Linked DNA regions of Homo sapiens: region 1 is linked to region 2. A link means that fine-mapping ties the variant in region 2 to the expression of a gene that starts in the linked region. Tissue or cell type: prefrontal cortex. Region 2 holds a variant in brackets; the other region holds the start of a gene. All regions are shown on one strand. Distances are from middle to middle.

What was found. PIP is the estimated chance that this variant, and not a neighbour inherited with it, causes the effect.
Region 1: CTXND1 starts here. The variant in region 2 is fine-mapped to the expression of CTXND1 in prefrontal cortex (BrainSeq, PIP 0.95).

What each region holds. Positions count from the first base shown.
Region 1 is chr15:80,248,137-80,255,380 of GRCh38, forward strand. It overlaps CTXND1 (cortexin domain containing 1), which reads right to left and starts at 4,077. Exons shown (of 3, transcript NM_001352888.2): 1 at 3,871-4,077.
Region 2 is chr15:80,214,566-80,221,809 of GRCh38, forward strand. The region is part of intron 1 of CTXND1 (cortexin domain containing 1); the gene reads right to left. Among named protein-coding and RNA genes, the nearest start is that of CTXND1, 34 kb to the right of the region's middle. The variant A/AT (reference allele first, on the strand shown) is at 4,370.

The sequences.
Region 1 (7,244 bases), 34 kb after region 2:
TGCCAGCCTAGACTACGCCCTCTCACATACAAATGAACCAACTCTAAAGTCTCATTGTCTTTGATGTCCTGGTCGTACAAGTCATACCTGATTCGATGCAGGCAGCCCAACCTGGGAACAGACCTGTTCCCTCAGGCCTAGTAGCAATGCATCAAGATAGCCTGCGTCTGATGTGGGGAATCTTGGGGCAGGTTTGCCTGCACAGGGGTCATTTCTACAGATGATCCTACGGCTTATAGGAGACGCAGCGGAAAGGGTAAGGAGAGAAAGAAAGGTACATTAGGGAAACAATTTCAGGAGTTTTGCCATCACATTACTCTCCTGGCTTAAAACTCCTCAATCTCTCCCCATTGTCTACAGTACCTAACTAGATACCATTTCCTAAGCCAACTCCAGGCAGTTGTAGAAAAGGATTCTGAGGCCTCGTTCTGGCTCCATGGGAAAGAATATCATAATTGATTAGCAATGTCTGCTCTAGGCAAGAGAGGGAGGTGCGACAAATGTATGCCATTAATTTGCAGTTTTCTAGAACACAGGGAGCTCCGTCTGAGTCAAGAAGCCAGGGTAGCCGGAGGGAACTGGATGTGATCATAAAGGCCATGCAGTGTCAGGCCACTTGTCAGCTATTAATAATATCAGCCTCTAAATAACAGACAGGTGTCAGTATGCCTGCTGCCTCTGGTCAACTCGTGGTAACCACCTGGGCATAGAGATTCATGTCTATGGAAAGAACATTGTATTTTAATTACCCATGTCTGCCACCAGGCTGGGTTGCAGGAGTGGCAGCACAGTTCTCTTTCTTTCTTTTTTTGATTTTTTTTTTTTAATTTGGTAGAGACAGGGTCTCACTATGTTGCCCAGGCTGGAGTATAGTGGTGCAATCACAGTTCACTGCAGCCTTGAACTCCTGGGCTCAAGTCATCCTCCTGCCTCAGCTTCCCAAGTAGCTGGGACTATAGGCATACCACCATGCCTGGCTAATTTTTAAAATTTTTTTGTGGAGATAAGTTCTCACTCTGTTGCCTAGGCTGGTCTCAAACTCCTGGCTTCAAGCGATTCTCTTGCTTTGGCCTCTGAAAGTGCTGAGCCACTGTGCCCAGCCTCAATTCCCTGTCTTTCTGACCCTGCTCCAGTCTCAGGGGAACTCAGCTCTTTTCCATCACGCCATCCTAAGGACAGGGATAGAATGCCATTTTGGGGTCTGTGGGATTCTAACGGGACAAGGGCACTAGGAGTCAGATCTTTTAGAGGAAGAACCCTACTCAGAATCCCAGTTTTCCTACCTCATTTAACCTTGAGTAATTCAAGTTGCTTCTCTGATCATTAATTTCCTTGTCAGGAAAATGGGGATAATAAACCTGATAATTAAATGATGGAATATATAAAATGCTTAGTATATACTAAGGGCTTAATAAATGGAACTGACTTTTAGTAATTGATGATTCTGGGGTTTTACAAATAAGAACTGAAGATAAAAAAGGTGGCTTGCTTAAGGTCATCTGACTTAGTGGCAGAGCCAGGACTAAACACTGATTTGTCCCCCACAAATGCCAGTGTTCTTCTCCCCGGTGTCCACAAGGCAACTGATATTCACAGTGCTGATCTTGAGTTGTCAGGAAACACACAAATTCCCATTCGCTGACTCTCTGATTGTAGAAAGCATGTAATGTGCTTTAGAAATATTTCCATCCCAAACAGTTCTAAATGTTGTCACTTTTAATAGCAAACTTAAGCTATCTAAAAAATTTGCAGACACGGACCGGTTCCAGAGCCTTCAATGTCAAAATTCACAGTCATTATGGTCTTCTTCTACATCAGAACTTATTAGGAGCATTAACCTCAGTCTAGGAACCATGTCAGTTTTATAAACACTGTTCTTTCTATTATGGCAAGACAGGATACTTAAAGGACATTTTCCTTGATACCATTTCATTTTCTATTTACGTCATGAAAATAGTATTGAATTTGGGCAATACTACACACAAACTATTTTAGGGTTGCAGATTTTGAGTCTGTGCTGTAATAGTGTGGCCAGGTAGTGTAAATATTTGTTGGAGAAAGATTAACTAGCAAGGCAGTATATTCAGAATGGCTGCCTCTTTCATTAACCCTGTAAGGAAAGGAACTGGAAAGACACACGCAATTCTGTAAATCACAATTTATAAGCAAGCAGCAATTGAACTTCTAGTTGAGCTAGTTTTTTTTTTTCAGGCCAATTAAAGTTCATATTATTTTTTAAACAACTCCTATTCTGCCATAACTTTATTTTAAATCTGCATCTTAAACATGTAATGGCGAGAAATTTGCTATAATTTTCCACATGTATTTGGGTTAGAGATACATTATGCTCTATGCATTCATTACTTGCATGCCGTTCAAAAATCATAAACAGTGTTACTGGGAAAACTGATTGGGAAATTAATCCTTTGAAACAACAACATATGAATGCAATGATTACACAGAATAAATAAACAGCTTCCCCACAATTTCTCTTTTGGATAAATGTAAAGTCATTAGTTTCAGAACAGTTTTCCCAAGGACGTAAGGTTTTGCTTTTCCTCCGTAATGCCTCCTCAAAGCTGGTACATATCTTATGCTGAGCCATCCCTGAAAAGGTAGCCTTAATCAAAATCTAATCTATAAATCACCTTTAAAGCCTTGAATGTTTGGCTTTATGAGGTCTTACACACACTTTGCAGGTTCGCAAAGACCACAGATCAGATTATTACAATTCCTCTCAAGATGTGGCTTAATGAGGGTGAGGGAAGTATAGAAGACTTCAACTCCAGACCCTCGGAACTAGATCCCCTAGTTCACTGGATACATATTTTATGGAAAAGGGTAAGATTGTATCACAGTGTTAATCCAGAAACTCGAATCCTCTGATTAGAATCAGAGGAGAACTGAGAAGAACCTGCCGGCGGATGCACGAGTGGGTTAGAATGGAACTTCTCCCCACGAAGGCAGCACAGGCTTCGATGGAGCTTTTTTCCTGGGTCCCGAGCCACATCCTGACAGGCCACTGTGGCCCTATTGCACGCCTGGTGAGGCGGTGCATCAGCTTGGATTTTCTAACAGGTTCTTTTCCAGAACTTTTGCTGCGGGCACGGAGACTCTTACCAAATTCGGCTCCATAATACATTCCCCAAAACATTAGAACCCAGGATAGGTCTACGCCTCCACTGATACGGAAAAATATATGAAAGCGTGGATTAGGGTTTTTGCCACAGATGAGAACAAAATCCAACGGAGACTTGACATTTCTTTAGAAAGGCTGCCACCAGCAGAACTTTCCCCAGAAGTTACATCCGTGCTGACCTTCATCAGTTACATTGAGAAAAAATCTGTTCTATGTGACTGTCAGCCACAGGAGAGGGAATTTTAGGCACTGAACGTGACGAGAAGGACTTTCTAACTTTGATTCAGTTTCAACTCACACTCCCCAAACCCCTCAATGGCAGAGAGGCCGAGGATCCCCGAATGGGGAGGTGAGGCTCAGAACAGCGAGGGTGCCTGAGCACAGCACCACACTCTCCCGGTTTCTGAGCCCCGAGCCCCGCAGTGGAACTCGGGCCGCTGCGACGCGGCTCCCGTGCGGCTCCCACCGAGGCTGCTGTCCCCTGCCGCGCGGGTCCGGCCCTCCCCGCCGACCGAGGCGCGCCCCGGGCGCAGTGCCGCCGAGGAGGGGATCGGTCCCAGTGTCCACGCGGGTCTCCTCGCCGCCGCGGCAGGGCTCGGCCCGACTTCAGCGAGCAGATCCTCCGCCTGCGGCCGGTGACCCGCGCGACGCCCCGGCGGCACCGACAATGCTGTGCTCCAGCCCCGCAGGCGCCGCGGCAGCGGGTCCCGGGATGCTCCCGCGGTCCTTACCTGGCGAGGCCCGTCCCGTGCGCTCCCGGGGTCCTGGCTGGGCCGGCGCCGAGCCCAGGGCGACCGCGGATCGCCGGCTACGGCGTTTCCCGGTGACGGGGGCGCGGGCTCGCGGGGCGCGGGGGGCGCTGCCCAGGCCCGGCTCGGCAGGAGTCAGAGCCCCCAGCGGCGCGGGCGAGCCCGGGCCAGCAGCCGAGAGGGGGCTCTGAGCGGAGCCGCGGCCGTCCTGGCATTTTAAAGGCGAGGCAGCTGGACGCTGTTCAAGCGGAAACGCAGAGAGAAACTTCAGCCCCCGGGGCAGAGCGTTGGCAGCGAGGGGAGGGGGCCCAAGAGCTCCTTGCAGGCGCACAAACCAATCTGGGCTATTCCAATATGCTCTTCAAATGCATTTTCTTCAGATATTCTCTTTACAGTTAAAAAAAAAAATCCCCCCAAACAACAACGACAGCAAAACCCTCTCAAAGCCTTCTCCTGCAGTATGCTTCATAGCAAGCCAAACATTTCCATTAAAGTTAGGGGCAAGAGCAGGGGGCCGGTTTGGGACGTCTGGTCAATGCAATCAGACAAGAGAAGGAAATAAGGTGTAAAAATACTGAAGTTGTGCCTTTGTTAAAAAAATATATATTCTATATGTGTGTATATATGTATATATATTATATATATGTGAAGCGGGAGAAAAATGATTACTGTTTGCAGCGGATGTGATTGTGTAGTTGGAAAGTGCAAACTGAAGATTGTTGAAATAATAGCCTTTCCAAGGAATTGGCAGGCTACAAAATAAACATACCAAATTAACGGTGTTCTTGTGCACTTACTAACCATTTTGAAAGGCAAATAAAAAATCCCATTCTCACTAATAGCCAAGCCACAGTAGCTAGGAAAAATAAACTTATCATGAAATGTGAAAGAAAAAAAAAAAAAAACAACCTTCTCTACTAGGGGACTAGAGAAGACTTGAATCTATTATGACGCACGCCTTATTCTTGGGCAAGAAGAAGTAAACACTGTAATCCCATCATGTCCTCTTTATCTGTCAATTCAATGCCATCTCTATCAAATTCCAAGTAGAATTTTCTTTTTAACTTGACATGATTCTCAGTGTCATGTGGAAGAATAAAGAGACCAGGCAACAAAATGTTGATAAGGAAGAGCATAAGGGAAGCTAGCCCTGCTGGATATTAAAATGAAGAAATGCTTGCATGCATAAATGAATAAATGAATAAATAAAATACATTGTTTGAGTGCTTACTATTTAAGGAAGTGCTCTACGTGGATTAATGCATTTTATTCATCACAACAAGCTATGATGCAGGTACTGATACTGCTGCCATTTTCAGATAGGAAATGGAAGCCCAAAAGTGTAAGTATCACACTTACACTTTTGTGTAAGGTCACACAAGTAGGAGTAGGGGATCAGGGGTTTGATGCAGGCGTTCTGCCTGCAAAAACTATGCATCTATGTGCTTCAACCCCATCACACGACACCGCCTCTGTCACAAGGCAAAAACCAGCACATTACTGGTCCGGACATGACTGTTCAATGGAATGGGATGAAGAGCCCAGAATTAGAAGTACATGAGAAACTGTGGTGTTTAAGGTGGTACTTCATGTTAATCAGATAGATAGTTTTTATTTTATTTTATTTTATGTTTGAGACGGAGTTTTGCTCTTGTTGCCCAGGCTGGAGTGCAATGGCACGATCTCGGCTCTCTGCAACCCTCTGCCTCCTGTGTTCAAGCAATTCTCCTTCCTCAGCCTCCCAAGTAGTTGGGATTACAGGCATGCGCCACCACACCTGGGAAATTTTTGTTAGGTACAGGGTTTCACCATGTTGGCCAGGCTGGTCTCGAACTCCTGACTTCAGGTGATCTACCCACCTCTGCCTCCCAAAGTGCTGGGATTACAGGCGTGAGTCACCACGCCTGGCCCAGATAAATAGATGTTTAAATAAATGATATTGGAATAACTAGATAGTGAAAGTGTGGGGATCTCATTTTCTACCTAGTTCCCCAGACCAAAACAAATTCCAGATCCGTCATAAATTGAACATAAAAAACTGAAGTCAAAAAATAATTAGATGAATATATACATAAAAGTCATCATAAACCTAGAATTCTGAAAGCCTTTCTAAATATATCATAAAAGCATAAAGGAAAAGACTGATATATATGATTATAAAATATGCAAATAAATGTCTTCATGGAAAAAGACACCGTAAACGGAATTCAAAAATAAACAACAAACTGGAAAAATATTTGCTATCCATATGAGATGGGGTTACTAAGTTTAACAGAGATATAAACCTGGTTGAATTGGAATTTCAGATAGGCTATGAATAATTTTTTAGTATGATTATGTCCCATTCATCATTTGTCTGAAAGTCAAATTTAACTTGATGTCCTGCATTTTAATCTGAAAGCCCTAACATAACAGCAACATTTTAATGTAGATATCTTACAAAGAACGCTTATAATCATTTTTTTTAAAAAGATGATCACCACAATAGAACAAAGAATAAAAGAGATGAGCGGCCAGTTCACAAAAAAAGAAATATAAATGTCCCAAACAAGAGAAAATAACTGTCCTCTCTAGCAGTGAAATAAATGCAAATAAAAAATTTAGGAAGTTGTACTTTTTACCTACTAGCTGGCAAATTTTAAAATATTGAACAAATTCAGTGCTGCTGAAGGGTCTGGAAAAATGGGCATTCTCTCTCACTGTTTATGAGAATGTAATTTGGTACAATATTTCTAGAAAGCAGTTTGAGGACAAATATCAAATTGAATACTTTATGTACAAGCAAATTCATTTTCAAGAACTTATCTAAAGACATCATCTGACAAGTGGACAAAATATATATAGCAGATGTTTGTTGCTTTGCAGAAATAATTTATAATAGTAGAATATTGGAAACAACCCAAATATCTGTCAATAGGGGATTAGTTATTGAAATATAATTAAATCATAATACTATGCAATGAGACTTACTGTGATGTGTGATGCAGGCATTATTCTTTTTTATTCTTTGTTTTTGAGACAGGGTCTCTCTCTGTCATCCAGGCTGGAGTACAGTGGTGTGATCTCAGTTTACTGCGGCTTGGATCTCTTGGACTCAAGCGATCCTTCCACCTCAACTTCCCAAGTAGCTGGGACTACAGGTGCATGCCAGCACATCTGGCTAATTTTTGTTTTGTTTTGTTTTGTTTGTTTGTTTTTGGTAGAGACATGGTTTGCCATGTTGCCTGGGCTGGTCTCAAACTCTTAAGCTCAAGTGATCCTCCTGGCTTGGCCTCCCAAAGGGCTGGGATTACTGGCATGAGCCACAGTGCTGGGCCGATGCAGGCATTATTCTAAACACTGCCTGTGTAATAACT
Region 2 (7,244 bases):
CAGAAGATTTAGAAAATTACTATAATAAGAATACTTCCTATTAAAACTTATGGGGTGAGGTGAGTGACAGCTGTTTACTACACTTAGGGGCAAAATCATAACTCTCATCACTGAACAAAGGGAATTAAATGTAGTGAAACAAGGAATCAACTTAGGAAGTTGTATAAACAGCATGAAGAAAATCCAGAAGATGAGATTAGTATAGTTAAAAGTGGAAATTAATAATTCACAAAACACAAAATCAACACAGTTAAAAATAAACCCTAGAGCAAGTTCTTTAAAATAGTTTGAACCTGGGCAAACTTCTGGCAAGTTTAACCTGGTTAAAAAGAGAAAAGGCAAATGCACACCATTAGGAATGAGAAACAGGATATAACCACAGATGCTATACAAAGGAGATCAAAAATATAATGAGGCAGTACTATGAAAACTCTGCCATTACATTGGAAAACTTCAAAGATATGGATGTTTTCCAGAAAAATGTAAATAGTTAAAATTGGCTCAAAATGAAATAGAAAACCCAAATTAAACAATCTCCATGGGGTGTCTGTCAAGAGTGTTTACTTGGCCCAAGTTGGGCTCCAGTCCAGCAGCCAGACCAAGGCCAAGTCCATGAAGCCACCCAATGTTGTCCAGCACATAATGACCTACGCTTGAAACTCCTCCATATTGGGGGTACCATTTCTTCTTCTGAGAGCTGGGGGAATCGTGTTGGCCACCATTGGAGTTCCTCCTTGCCCCTTTGGGGTACAAACACATTTCCTGTTAGTACTTCCATTGAACAGCTCAAACTCCAATATTGACTATTTTGAATGTGTTTATGATGAAAGAAGTCCCCAAGGTGCTTATTTATGACCAAAGAGCCGGTTTATTCATGCCTTCCAGAGGGTATGTCTCCTCTCCTTGAGGACAAAGGATGTCACATCACCAAGAGAAGGTGATTAGGAAGTCTATTCCAGTCCCTGCCACAGTGGCTCTGCATGGGTGGTCCTTCAAGGTGTGGGAAGGGGGCTTCCTGGTCTTCCTCAGCTCTTTGTCAAGAGTTCCAATGTCACAGCTTTTTAGATTTGTTGTCTCATATAGGGCACATTCCTGGGGCATTATCTGGCCTCCAGGATGGCTGGATTGGAAACTGTCCTAGGATCCACAGCATTAGGGATTCAGAACCATTCCTCTCTTAAGAGCCCAACTCAGCAGTGGCCCGCCCCAAGCCTAATGCTTTTTATCTCCAAGATGATTTCATTCCAGGGGCTTCGTTGCTCTTTCCTCCCTCTGGACGTTGCTTAGGGGAGACTGGGCTACTGAAGCCGATTTCTGCAACTTCAATCTTGGGAAGAAGTGGGTGGAGTCTCAATCACTTCCCACTTTCAAGGGTCCTGGGGGCCTCATACAAATGTGCGGCCTCTCCCCAGCATCTTCCAAGGTCTGCTCATTAGTAGTTTTTCTCCCAGAAAGATATGTTAGCTATGTTAGATTTCCACCTTGTTGAACATTCTATGTTAACTGTGTTGACACGGAATATTCAACAATTCACAAAATGGCATTTAAAGATGTTTGTCTTTATCTCATCTTTCAATTGGAAAACTCTGAAGATCATGTCCCCGTTCTCCAGGGCTGGGGCGGCACCAAGCTGCATCAACCATATGTTTTCTGGCTCTACTCCTGCTGGACATATGGCAAAAGGGAACACTTCCTATTGATAGTATTTCCCCTAAATTAATGCAAATCCCCTCTGCGCAGCTACATAAATTGATTTTCTGTGTTTGAAGGGTAAACTGACATACGCTCAAAGTTTTGCAAACTAGGGAAGAGAGGTTTCTTTTCCAAAGAACACATTTCATTTGTTTACAGCCATGAATTGAGATGTTCGCATTTCCTTCCTACAAATTTGACAACTGTTACATAGCAGCAGGGGGACCAACAAACTGTCATTTACTTTGCTGCAATAGCAAAAGTAATTTGAGCCTTGTTTATGGATCATCATTTAATATAGAAACAGAAGTGATGACGCTGGAGATCATCCAGTCCCTTCCATTATTTTATTTATTTATTTATTTATTTTTGAGACGAAGTCTTGCTCTGTTGCTCTCCCAGGCTGGAGTGCAGTGGTGCGATCTTGGCTCATGGCAAACTCTGCCTCCTGGGTTCAAGGGATTCTCCTGCCTCAGCCTCCTGAGTAGCTGGGACTACAGGGGCACGCCACCATGCCCAGCTAATTTTTGTATTTTTAGTAGAGATGGGGTTTCATCATATTGGTCAGGCTGGTCTCGAACTCCTGACCTCAAATGATCCACCTGCCTTGGCCTCTGAAATTTCTAGAATTACGGGTGTGAGCCACCGTGCCTGGCCCCTTCCATTATTTTAGAGTTTGATGGACTAAGGCTCAGATAGGGCAAATGATTTGATCAAAGATTCTTCTTATATGGACCAGAACTCTTGAGTTCTAGTCACTGGTGTGTGCAGCGACTTGACACTATCCATGATAGTGGCAACTAAATCTCTGCTTTCCTTGAATTGGTTCCAACAGCAGAAGGTAGGCTCTAGTGCCAGGACACAAGGGAAAAAACATTCATCTTGGGGTTTTTCTATGCCAATTGCAAGCTGAACCTCACTTCTGCTGTGGGTTGAATAGCAACATATCAAGCCTTGGGGAGTTAAAAAAAATGTCTAGGAAACTGACAAAACTCCCACATGAGTTTGCTTCTTTGTCTACAAATAGATATCTTAATATAGAACCAATTTTACATCCTGAAATAGATCCTACTTTGTATACTATTTTCTAATACACTGTCAGATTCAAATGTTAATATTTTATTTAGGATTCTTACAACAATTACTAAGTAAAATGGAATCTATTTTTTTGTACTATTTTGTTAATTTTGTGTCAAGGTTGTGCTAATTTCTTAGCACAAATTGGGAAGATTTATATATGTGTCTGTGCTCTCCAATAGCTTGCTTATTTATTTATTTATTTATTTATTTATTTATTTATTTATTTAGAGACAGTGTCTGGCTTTGTCACCTGGACTGGAGTGCAGTGGCAAAATCTCAGCTCACTGCAAGTTCCACCTAATGTGTTCAAGCCATCCTCCCACCTCAGCCTCCCAAGTAGCTGGGACTACAGGCGCACACCACCATACCGGGCTAATTCTTGTATTTTTTATAGAGTCAAGGTTTCACCATGTTGCCCAGGCTGGTCTCGAACTCCTGAGCTCGAGCAATCTGCCTACCTCAGCCTCCCAAAGTGTTGGGATTACAGGTGTAGGCCACCATGGCCAGCCCACTAATAGTTTAAGTAAGGGGAATTATCTGTTCCTTAGAAGTTTTTTGAATTGTAAAACACCCTGTGTGACTTGGATCTTTTCTGGAAATAAATGATGGTAAATATTTTTCAATTTCTTCTATGGATGCCGATGTATTTAGATTTTCTACCTTTTCTTATAGGAATCTGGGAAATGTATAACTTCTTGGGAAATTGTCCATATTATGTATTCAACTTCAGTGATAGAAAATTGTATGTAGTATTCTCATTACTGTTTGGTATCCTTCTTGGCTGTAATTATCTGCTTATTAGTATATGTATTTTTAGAGATAGGGTCTTGTTCTGTCCTCCAGGCTGGAGTGCAGTGGCACAATCATAGCTCACTGCAGCCTGGAACTCCTGGGCTCAAGTGACCCTATCACTTCAGCCTCCCAAGTAGCTAGGACTACAGGTGTGTATCACCACACCTGGCAATGTTTTTAAACAGTGTTTTGTAGAAGTGGAGTCTCGCTATGTTGCCTAGGCTGGTCTCAAACTTCTGACCTCAAGCAGTCTTCCCACCTGGCCTCCTAAAGTGCTGGGATTACAGGTGTGAGCCACCGCTCCTGGCCTATTTGCTTATTTCTTATTGCATATATTATTTATTTGTGTTTTCTCTTGGTTAGGCTTTCCAGAACTTTCTGCATTTTGTTGATGTTTTAAAAGTATTGATATTACAGATCAATTGTATGCTTTCCTTGCTTTCCAATGAATTGTTTTCTTATTATTTATTTTACCTTTCTTCTCAATATTATATATATATATTTTCCGTTGATATTTTATTTGAAATAGTTAAACATGTACAAAATCTGAGAGAGTGTCTGTATATCTACTATCCAACTTTAACCAATATTAGTATTTCACCCTGCTTGTTTCCTTTTTAAAAAGGAAAGATATTACAGATGTAAGCGAAGCCCAGTATGTATTTGAACTAGATCCCACTCTCCACTTTCCTTCACCAGAGGTGAGTACCCTCCTGAAGTTGTGGATCATTCCTATGCATATTTTTATATTTTTATTATATAAGAAGAATATATTCATACACCATACTGAGTGTTATTTTCTGTG[A/AT]TTTTTTTTTTTTTTGAGACAGGGTCTTGTGCTGTCGCCCAGGCTGGGGTGCAGTGGTGTCATCATAGCTCACTTCAGCCTCTGCCTCCCAGGCTCAAGGGACCCACCCCACTCAGTGTCCGTAGTAGCTGGGACTACAGGTGCGCACTACCACTCCCAGCTAATTTTTTTTTTTTTTTGTATTTTTTTTGGTAGAGTGAGGGTCTCACTACGTTGCCCAGGCTGGTCTCAAACTCCTGGGCTCAAGCAATCCTCCTACCTCGGCCTCCCAAAGTACTTGGGATTACAGGCATAAGCCACTGTGCCCAGCCTATTTTCTGTGGTTTTTAAAACTTTAAATATTATTGAGTATGTATCATCTTGCTACTTGCTTTTTCATTCAACTCGATGACTTTGAGACTTTTCCTCATGCCAATACATGTAACTTTGTTTCTTTCTTTTCCACTACTGCATAGTATTCTGTGGTTGGAACAAGGTTTGTTCACTGCTCATTTCTTCTCCAACTAATGGGCTTTTATGTTATTTCAAAATTTTAAATTATAAAAACAATTCTTCAGTGAACATTCCTATACAGGTACACTTAGGTGAAGATTTTTCTAGGCTATGTTAATTGGTATGATTCCTGAGTTGTAGAATAGGCATATCTCTAACTTTATTAGACATTGCCAATTTTTCCTCCCAAGTGGTTATTCCTAATCTCACAGTCACCAGCAGTACCTGGGAGCTCCTGCCACTTCATACCCTTGGCATGAGCTGGTATTATCAGATGTGAATTTCTGCCATCATGGGGTGTGTGAATGGTATGTCATTATGGATTTAATTTGCATTCCTCTGCTTTCTAATGATGTGGTGCATCTTTTTATAATTTTATTGGGCATTTAGTTTTCCTCTTTATAAATTACTATGTTAATTTTCTCTTTCTCGTTTGTCTTTTAGGCTTTATCTTTATTCTAAATATCATTTCTTCGCTGGTCTTGTGCTTTGCCATTCTGCAATCCCTCCCGCCCCGCAATCTGTGGCTTGTTTTTCAAATTTGTTCTTAGAATCCTATTTGTTCAGATGTTTCGAATTTTAATGTAGTAAGCCACATTAATCTTTTCTTTTATAATTTTTGCTTTTTGTGACTTCTTAAATCCTTTCCTGTCCTGATGTCAAATATACTCTCATCTATCTATCTATCTATCTATCTATCTATCTATCTATCTATCTATCATCTATCTATCTATCTATCTATCTATTTATCTATCTATCTATATTAGAATTCTACAACTTTGTTTTTCACATTTAGGTTTATAATCCATCTGAGATAGTTTTTTTCATGTGGGGGGTTTATATTTATGTCTCCCTATAGGGATAAACAATTGTCTCATCCCTATTTATTGACGAATCTGTCTTCTCCCAGGGATTTGTAATGCCACTTCTAGTTTCCATCTACATGAGTTCATTTCTGGGCTCTCTATCCTTTTGAATTTGTTTATTGTCTATCTCTGCCAATACCATACTGTGTTAAATTGCATTAAGTGGCTTTATAATACATCTTGTTATATGCTACTCCAACTTCTCCACCTTGTAGTTTTTATTCCAGAGTGCCTTGACTCCTTACACTTTTATATATTAGGATCACCTTGTTGAGTTCATGAAAAACTCTGTTAGGGTGTTGATTGCGATTACATTGCATTTATGATTTAATTAATAATGAATTATCATCTTTATGATATTGAGTCTTCCCATTTGTGATAAAGGTATTCAGACTTTCATTCATGTCCGTTAATCATGTGTTATAATTTTCCCCATGGGAAAACACATTTTCTGTTTGTTTATTTCTAGGTATTTTGTGGTTTATAGTATTGATTTTTTTTTACACCTTATAATTAGTTATTGTTGGTATGGAAGAACAATATAAGTTTTTATGTATGAATTTTAAATCCAGAAAATTTACTGAGCTCTATTATTAATTAATTTATTATTATTATTATTATTTTTTTTTTTTTTGAGACAGAGTCTCGCTCTGTCGCCCAGGCTGGAGTGCAGTGGCGCGATCTCTGCTCACTGCAAGCTCCGCCTCCCGGGTTCACGCCATTCTCCTGCCTCAGCCTCCCGAGTAGCTGGGACTACAGGCACCCGCCACCACGCTCGACTAATTTTTTTGTATTTTTAGTAGAGACGGGGTTTCACCATGTTAGCCAGGATGGTTTCGATTTGCTGACCTCGTGATCCGCCCGCCTCGGCCTCCCAAAGTGCTGGGATTACAGGCGTGAGCCACCACGCCCAGCCTCTATTATTAATTTATTTGTTAGAAGATTTAGATTTAGAAAATCATAATGCCCGCCAAGAACAGTTTTGTCCCTTTCTTTGCACATTGCCACTTTTTTCATTTCCTGTTGAATTGGCTCAGACCACAAGTGAAATAGTGAATAGTAGGGATGATAAAGGGCATCCTTGTCTTGTTCTTTATTGTAAAGAAATATTACTAATCTTTCATTATAAAAATGATTTGTTTGGACTCGACATGGTGGCACGTGCCTTAAATCTCAGTGCTTTTGGAGGCTGAGATGGGAGGATCACTAGAGCCGAGGTGTTCCAGGCTGCAGTGAGGTATGATAGCGCCCCTGCACTCCAGCCTGGGCGACAGAGAGAGACCCTGGCTCTAAAAATAAAAATGATTTTTTTTGGTAAGTCTGATTTAACCTATATTAATCCCTTTGTCCTACTTTTAGTAACTTTTTTGTTCTTTTTCTAGCTTCTAAAGGTGACAGTTTAGTAAATTTATTTTAAATCTTTTTTGCTTAATAGAAAAATAAATATTTTTTAGGGCTTTATATATTTCTTTGAGTATAACTTTGGCTGCATGCCATAGATTTTGGAAACCATTGCT